Regions from separate parts of the Homo sapiens genome. Here regions 2 and 3 are each linked to region 1. Evidence: fine-mapped expression QTL. A gene starts in region 1. Each other region holds a variant in brackets. All regions are shown on one strand. Distances are between the middles of the regions. Region 1 holds the start of BORCS8 (BLOC-1 related complex subunit 8). Region 2 overlaps BORCS8-MEF2B (BORCS8-MEF2B readthrough). Region 3 overlaps BORCS8-MEF2B (BORCS8-MEF2B readthrough).

Region 1 (2,755 bases):
ATGTGAGTAATCTAGGGTGATTTAAAGTATAGGGGATTAGCTGGGTGCAGTGGTTCACACCTGTAATCCCAGCACTTTGGGAGGCCAAGGTGGGTGGATCACTCGAGGTCAGGAGTTCGAGACTAGCCTGAGCAACAAGGTGAAACCCCGTCTCTACTAAAAATACAAAAAAATTAGCTGGGCATGGGGGTGTGTGCCTGTAATCCTAGCTACTCAGGGGGCTGAGGTTGCAGTGAGCTGAGATCCCCCCACGGCACTCCAGCCTGGGTGACAGAGCGAGACTCCGTCAAAAAAAAAAAAAATTAAAGAATTAGCCTGATGTGGTGGTGTGCACTTGTAGTCCCAGCTACTGGAGAAGCTGAGGCAAGAGGATCGCCCGCGCCAGAGAGATCGAGGCTACAGTGAGCCATGATCGCGCCACCGCACCCCAGCCTGGGCGACAGTGTGATACCTTGTCTCAAAAAAAAAAAAAAAAAAGGAAACAAGACGCACAGCGATTACTACGCCCCGGGGATTCTTCCAATGCATTACAAATATCAGGTTGTTGAGTTTTTTTTTTTTAGACAGGGTCTCACTTGTCACCCAGGCTGGGGGTGCAGTGGCACGACCGTAGCCCACTGCAGTGCAGCCTTGACCTCCCGGGCTCAAGCAATCCTCCCACCTTAGCCGCCCAAGTAGCTGGGACCACAGGCGTGCGCCACCACGCCCGGCTAATTTTTGTATTTTTTTAGAGACGAGATCTCACTATGTCACCTAGGCTGGTCTCGGGCTCAAGCGATCCTCCCGCCTAGGCCTCCCAAAGTGCTGGGATTACAAAGCCACCACTCCCAGCCTCAGCTACTGAATTCTTGAAACAATCCTGGGGGGACCGGTAATTAAAGCAGACACGGAGCCTTTCTACAGGTTTCAAAACTAGTCAGCGGCAGAGCTGGGATTGGACGGCAGTTCAATCACTGCTCCTCGCACGGTCCCTCCGCGCCCGGCCTTTGTCAGGCCGCCCCTCCACAAGTTACCGGCCCCCTCTGTCCCGCCCGCAGGCCCGCACCACCTTTCTTCCCCTTGAGCTGCATCTCCGGCTCCTCCATAGCGACCGCGGCCGAGCGAACCGGGAAACGGCACCGGAAGCCCGGAGGTTGGGACGCCCGCCTAAGCCTTCCCTGCTGAAACCGGACGCCGCACGGCTCCTGTTCCGGTGTCAGAGGGCCCGCCCTCCCCGCTCCTCAGTCTTTGCGGACAAGAAAGGGGCTGTGTGAGACGCAGGGAAGGAGGCACACCCGGGGGTGGCGCAGTGAGGAGGGGGCGCGACGGCCAGGAGGCTGGTGGAGCGACACCCAGGCAGGAGAGGGGGAAGAACTCTCTCCCTTTCTGAACCCCCTTTTCCTTGAGAGACGAGTTGGGGGAGTCCTCCACGCATTACCCACTCGGGCCGCAAAAACTCCCTTCTTTAGCCCTCTGCCCCCGCCCTTGCTTATAAGCCTTTGAGACCGCAGAAGGGACCTTGTTGTGGAACGGGACGGCCAAGGTACGCTGCCCCTTTAAGTTCCAGACGCCCCGCGTACTTCCCCTACTTCTTCTTCTTGAGATAGCCCCGCCCATCTACCCGAAGCCGGAGCCAATTGGCTCCCTCTGGAAAAATCTGTGGGCAGGGTAAAGGTGAGCGGGCGCAGGCGTAGTGAAATTCTCAGAGCCCTTTAGGCCCCGCCCATTCCCTCCGAGTCGGTGAGGAGGGGAAAAGAAGGCGCAGGCGCAACTGCCCTCCCAGGACCCCAGCGGAACCCACGCCCTCCCCTAAGTCTTAAAGGGCCAGAGGCAGCACTTACTGCCCGGGCCCTTCCTCACTTTTGGGGGGCGGGGGTGCGCAAGCGCAGTGGGGGAGCTCTGGGGTGGGGGTAGCGGTCGAGTATCAAGTTGCTTTCTGTCCCGGCAGAGGAAGCCAGATCGCTGAGGGTCCGGTCTCCAGTTTGCCTCCTGCTATATCCATTGGAAGAGAAAAGTTTGTGACTTGGGCCCCCAAGTTTTGAGAGAACTGGGCTTTCGGCGCGGGGGGACAGAGGAGGCTCGTGGGGAGGTGAGTGGACCTCCTGGATCGATTTAGGAGGCTCGGGTGGGACTGGGACCAATCGCACCTTTGTTGAGCCGTCACTCATTATGGGGAGCCCCTCCCAACAACCATAGCGAATATTTATTGAGCTCCACGCTTAGCAGATCCCCCGATAAGCTATGTACAGACATAATTCGTTGTAGGTCTCATTTCCACATTTTGTCGTGGAGGAAACTGAGGCTCAAAGGTTAAGTCACGTGCCCAAGTTCTCACGGCCTATAAATTGAGGGATTCGAACCCAGACAGCTGACCCCAGAGCCCCGGCTTTTTTTTCCTTTCTTTTTTTTTTTTTTTTTTTTTTTTGAGACAGAGTCTTGCTCTGTCGCCCCAGCTACAGTGCAGTGGTGCGATCTCTGCTCACCGCAACCTCCACCTCCCGAGTTCAAGCAATTCTGCCTCAGCCTCCCGAGTAGCTGGGATCACAGGCGCCCGCCACCGCGCTTGGCTAATTTTTGTATTTTTAGTACAGATGGGGTTTCACCATGGTGGCCAGCCTGGTCTCGAACTCCTGACCTCATGATCCACCCTCCTCGGCCTCCCAAAGTGCTGGGATTACAGCCGTGAGCCACTGTGCCCTGCCAGAGCCCAGGCTCTTAAACATTGCACATTGTAGGTGCTTTGGTGGTGGGGAATGGTAGACCTCGAAAGCAGTTG
Region 2 (2,755 bases), 40 kb before region 1:
TTGAAACCCCGGCTCTACAAAAAATGCAAAAATTAGCCAGGCATGGTGGCACACGTCTATAGTCCCAGGTACTCCGGTGGCTGAAGTAGGATGATCACTTGAGCTGGGGAGGTTGAGGCTGCAGTGAACTATGATCTTGCCACTGCACTCCAGCGTGGGCAACAGAGACCCAGTCTTTAAAGGAAAAAGAAAACAGAATAATAGAAACGCCTCCTGCTCTAGCAGGAGGATGCAGGCACACTCTGGAAAGGCCTCCAGCTCAGAGTCCTTGGGCCAGGGTGTGGGCCTGGCATCCACTTGGTGACTTGGAAGAAATCCTGTACCCCACTCAAGGAGATGTGAGATCGCCCTGGTAGGGGTCCCAGAAGGAGGAGACTGCTGGACTATGCTGGGGTCCAGGCCTTCCCCAGAGACCCCCACTCGAGGTTCCTGGGAACAATCGAATCATGTGGCCTGTCCTGCAGCCGCCGCCCTCTGTACAGACGTCCCCTGACACCACAGGGGACGTCCCCGCTCCGCCAACTGTGTGACCACACTCCACCTCCCAGCCTCTACCATGTCACAGGTGACTGAGGCTTCAGGCAAGGGGCCTCTCCAGGGTCACGCGGACCTACGCTCAGGCCTGGCCTTCCCTCTGACCCTCAGGGCAGCCCTCAGCACAGAAGACCCTTTCCCCAGGCCTCAGTTTGCTCTTCTGTGAATGGGCTGGTAGGAAATGCTGAGCACCCACCACCAGGCTTGGCAACAAGTTATCAAGAAATCCAGATCAGGCCGGTCACGGTGGCTCACGCCTGTAATCCCAGCACTTTGGGAGGCCGAGGCAGGCAGATCACTTGAGATCAGGAGTTCGAGACCAGCCTGGCCAACATGCTAAAACCCCATCTCTATTTTTTTTTTTTTTTTTTTGAGACGAGTTTTCACTCTTGTTGCCCAGGCTGGAGGGCAATGGCGCGATCTCGGCTCACTAAAACCTCCGCCTCCCAGGTTCAAGTGATTCTCCTGCCTCAGCCTCCCAAGTAGCTGAGATTACAGGTGCCCTCCACTATGCCCAGCTAATTTTTGTATTTTTAGTAGAGACGAGGTTTCACCATGTTGGTCAGGCTGGTCTCAAACTCCCGACCTCATGATCCACCCATCTTGGCCTCCCAAAGTGTTGGGATTACCACCGCATCCTACCCACCCCATCTCTATTAAAAATGCAAAAATTAACCAGCTGTCGTGGCGCACACCTGTAGTCCCAGCCACTTGGGAGGCTGAGGCAGGTGTGTCACTGCACTCCAGCCTGGGTGATAGAGCAAGACTCTGTCTCAAAAAAAAAAAAGAAAAAGAAAAAGAAAAAGAAAAAGAAATCTGGCTTGGCGTGGTAGCTCATGCCTGTAATCCCAGTATTTTGGGAGGCTGAGGTGGGTGGATCACGAGGTCAGGCGTTCGAGACCAGCCTGGCCAACATGGCAAAACCCTGTCTCTACTAAAAATACAAAAATTAGCCAGGCATAGTGGTGGGCACCTGTAGACCCAGCTACTCAGGATGCTGAGGCAGGAGAATCCCTTGAACCTGGGAGGCGGAGGTTGCA[G/C]TGAGCCGAGATCCCGAGATTTTGACAGGCTGGGCAACAGAGCGAGACTCCGTCTCAAAAACAGAAAGAAAGAAATCCAGATTGTTCTCTGGGAGTGTTCTCAGGGCTTCCCAGACCCCTGCCCAAGCGGTCTGGGCAAGGCCCTCCATTATCCCAGGGCCCAGAAGTGTTAGATACCTCGGCTGGCAGATATGGCATGCTGTGTGACCCCAGGCACACCCTCTGCCCTCTCTGGGCTGGGTCTCTGAGCCCCCACAACTATGTAGAGCCCAAGCTGTCAGTCCCAGACCCTCAGCTCCGGCTTGACTTGCTAAATTTAACCTCCAGGGCTAATTTTAATCCCCAGCCGGAATCGGGCCTGTTCCCACGGCTGGGATATGTTGCCCCCACCCTGATGGGTCCCTGGGGGGTGGACGGGGGCCTTGGTCCGGAGGTCCCAGGGCCAAGATGACTCCGGAAATGCCCCTGATGCCCAGGGTCCCACGAGAGCAGCAGCAGGGCTGGGGCTTAGGCCTGAGTCTCTTAAGCCTGGAAGACCTGACTCAAGCCCCTTCTCACTCTGTCTGTCCCCATTTTAGACACAGACACCATGGCTAGGGCAGAGGTCATGTGATGGGGGAGAACTGGGAAGTCTCTCTCTGCACTGAGACCCTGAGAGCTGAGATAGAAAGTGAGTTCCAGGCAGAAGGAAGAGCAGGTGCCAGGGCCCTGAGGAGGGACAAGAAACAGCGGGAGGGTGGGGATGAGGCCACAGAGGTTGGGCCATTCTAGGACTCCTTCTTTTGGGTTTCCTTCTTTTAATTTAATTTATTATTATTATCATTATTTTGAGACAGAGTCTCACTCTGTCGCCCAGGCTGGAGTACAGTGGCATGATCTTGGCTCACTGCAACCTCTGCCTCCCGGGTTCAAGTGATTCTCCCGTTTCAGCCTCCCAAGTAGCTGCGATTACGGGCATGCACCACCACACCTCGCTAATTTTTGTATTTTTAGTAGAGACGGGGTTTCACCATGTTGGCCAGGCTGGTCTTGAACTCCTGGCCTCAAGTGATCTGCCCGCCTTGGCCTCCTAAAGTGCTGAGATTACAGGCGTGAGCCACCACGCCTGGCCATATTTATTTTTTTGAGACAGTCTTGCTCTGTTGCCCAGGCTGGAGTGCGGTGGTGAGATCTCAGCTCAT
Region 3 (2,755 bases), 30 kb before region 1:
CAGATGCGGGGAGGATTTGTGGTCGATGGGTCCTGATGCCTCTCAGAAGGCCTTGGGGTCACCTCTCCATCCTGGGGGAACCCAGCTCAGATTGCGGGCCCCAAAAAGTCCCTGGTGGAGTGCTGAGGGACAGGGGCGGATGGGGTTGGGGGTCACTCCATCCTTGTATGGGCATAATGGGAGGTAGAAATATTCCCCACACACGGAGACCCCCAAACAGAGCCGCAGAAAATCCACAGATGCCCGAAACAACAGATCCCCCAAATACACAAGTATTCCTCCTGCGAAAGTCCCCAAAATACATGCAGTTCACGATACGCCAAACCCCCCAACCCACACAGCTCTCCAAACACACACATCCCCAAAACACATCCTATTCCCTCTGCATAGACAGACCCCAAAAACACTCAGACATACCCAGATGCCCCAACACATGCCAATCCCCCAAATGCACAGACACATACAGATCTCCCTAAACACATGGCCGTCCCGCAAATACACACAGACCCCTTTCCCCTGAACAATGTGGAGACCCCCGCCAGACGCATGCAGACTCTTCCAAACATATGCAGACTCCCCCCAATCCATGCTGGTCCCCCATTACATAGGTAGGGCCCCCCCATCCCTGCAGTGATACCACCCACACTCTAGCTTTCTTCTTTTTTGTTTTTTTTTTTTGTGAGACAGAGTCTCACTTTGTCACCCAGGCTGGAGTGCAGTGGCGTGTTCTCTGCTCCCTGCAACCCCTGCCTCCTGGGTTCAAGCGATTCTCCTGCCTCAGCCTCCCCAGTAGCTGGGATTACAGCCATGCGCTACCACACCCAGCTAATGTTTGTATTTTTAGTACAGACAGGGTTTCACCATGTTGGCCAGGCTGGTCTTGAACTCCTGGCCTCATGTGATCTGCCTACTTCGGCCTCCCAAAGTGCTGGGATTACAGGCCACCATACCTGGCTGGGTTTCCTCTTTTTAATTATTATTATTTTTTTTTGAGATGGGGTCTCGCTCTGTTGCCCAAGCTGGAGTGCAGTGGTGCCATCATAGCTCACTGCAGCCTCCAATTCCTGGGCTTAAGCATTCCTCCCACCTCAGATTTCCCAGCAGCTGGGGCTACAAGCGCACACCTAATTTTTAACCAGACTATGCCAGGCTAATTTTTTTTATTTTTGTAGAGAAGGGGCTTCATTTTATCACACTGGCTGGTCTTGAACTTCCGGCCTCAAGTTATCCTCCTGCCTCAGCCTCCCTAAGTGCTGGGATTACGGGTGTGAGCCACCACACAGGCCTGGCTGCCTTCCCAAGGCCGGGTGCTCTCCACCCACCAGGGGTGAAATGCAGGCTGGGGGCATCTGAGGCTAGATTTGAATGGGTAGTGTTTGAATCCAGGATTCTTAGAATGTTCCAGCTGGAGAAGGCCCCATGGGGGTCCTTTTTTCCATAGGTCCCTCTGGCACCCATGGGGAAAGTGAGGCCCAGTGGGGAGCCCTCAGACCCTCCTTCCCACCTCTCCCTGGGCCTGCTCCTGGGAGGGACAGCTCCTGTTCGAGGGGCAGGAGTCCACGGTGAGTGGGACCCTCTGTGGGA[C/T]GCCCCCTCTACTTCACTCCAGGATCCCATTTTGGCCATGCACAGAGAGGCCAGGGCCGGGGCTGTAGGCCAGTCAGTCCAGGATTCAAATCCTAAACCCGCCACTTGCCCACTGCGTGATACTTTCTGAGCCTCGGTTTCCTGTGTTTGCAGGGGTCCCCACAAACTCCCCATGTACCCACCCACCTCTCCCCTCACTTGAAAAGGTGTCATCTACCAGCAGACTCCCAGCCCACCTTCTGCCCCTTTGGGGGCATCTGCAACACCAGCCCCAAACTGATTCCCTACTTGCCCATCACTCTCCCTTTGCCCGGACTGTGTCCAACCCCGGGACACCCTTCTAGGTTTGCCCAAGTCCAGGAGTGTCTCCATGTCCTCTAAAGACCTGCAGAAAACGCTCTTTCTGGAGGCATCAATCTTTTTTAATATTTATTTTAATTTTTTCAGGCAGGGTCTCATTCTGTCACCCGGGCTGGAGTGCAGTGGTGTGGTCTCGACTCACTGCAGCCTGGCCCTCCCGGACTCAAGCGATCATCCCACCTCAGCCTCTGGAGTAGCTGGGAGTAGCACGGCGCCACACCTAGCTAATTTTTGTATTTTTTTAGAGCCGGGGTCTCCCTGTGTTGCCCAGGCTGGTCTCAAACTCCTGGTCTCAAGTGATCCTGCTGCCTCGGTCTTCCATAGTGCTGGGATTACAGGTGTAAGCCACCACGCCCGGCCAAATTCAACTCTTTCTGCAGCACCTCAGCCCTATCAGACTTTTTGGTGTGTGTTTCTTTATTGCTTTCTTTGATGAGCATCTCGCCCTGCCGGCTTCCCAGCGCCTAGTACATAGAAGGCCCTCAATCACCCTTCCTTGAATCAACGACCAAACAACTGCTTCACAGACAGAAGAAACACTGCCAACTTGCTCAGTTTTCTGTTTTTCTTTTTTCTTTTTTTGAGATGGGGCCTTGGTCTGTCACCTAGACTGGAGTGTAATGGCACAATCTGGGCCTACTGCAACCTCCGCCTCCCAGGTTCAAGCCAATCTCTTGCCTCAGCCTCCCGAGTAGCTAGGGCTGCAGGCGCCTGCCCCTCCACATGGCTAATTTTTTGATTTTTTGACATCTTATTTTTTGTAGAGACAGGGTCTCACTAGGTTGCCCAAGCTGGTCTTGAACTCTTGAGC

The links.
Region 2: its variant is fine-mapped to the expression of BORCS8 in whole blood (TOPMed, PIP 0.96).
Region 3: its variant is fine-mapped to the expression of BORCS8 in whole blood (TOPMed, PIP above 0.99).

What each region holds. Positions count from the first base shown.
Region 1 is chr19:19,191,033-19,193,787 of GRCh38, forward strand. It overlaps BORCS8 (BLOC-1 related complex subunit 8), which reads right to left and starts at 1,120. Exons shown (of 6, transcript NM_001145784.2): 1 at 1,049-1,120. The coding sequence starts at 1,085. It overlaps BORCS8-MEF2B (BORCS8-MEF2B readthrough), which reads right to left and starts at 1,120. Exons shown (of 12, transcript NR_027308.2): 1 at 1,049-1,120. It overlaps RFXANK (regulatory factor X associated ankyrin containing protein), which reads left to right and starts at 1,226. Exons shown (of 10, transcript NM_003721.4): 1 at 1,226-1,522; 2 at 1,928-2,068. RefSeq lists an enhancer at 2,003-2,092.
Region 2 is chr19:19,151,072-19,153,826 of GRCh38, forward strand. All of the region lies in intron 5 of BORCS8-MEF2B (BORCS8-MEF2B readthrough), which reads right to left. The region is part of intron 1 of MEF2B (myocyte enhancer factor 2B); the gene reads right to left. Among named protein-coding and RNA genes, the nearest start is that of TMEM161A, 14 kb to the left of the region's middle. RefSeq lists an enhancer at 636-695. The variant G/C (reference allele first, on the strand shown) is at 1,575.
Region 3 is chr19:19,161,146-19,163,900 of GRCh38, forward strand. The region is part of intron 5 of BORCS8-MEF2B (BORCS8-MEF2B readthrough); the gene reads right to left. The region is part of intron 1 of MEF2B (myocyte enhancer factor 2B); the gene reads right to left. Among named protein-coding and RNA genes, the nearest start is that of MEF2B, 7.7 kb to the right of the region's middle. RefSeq lists an enhancer at 1-228. The variant C/T (reference allele first, on the strand shown) is at 1,585.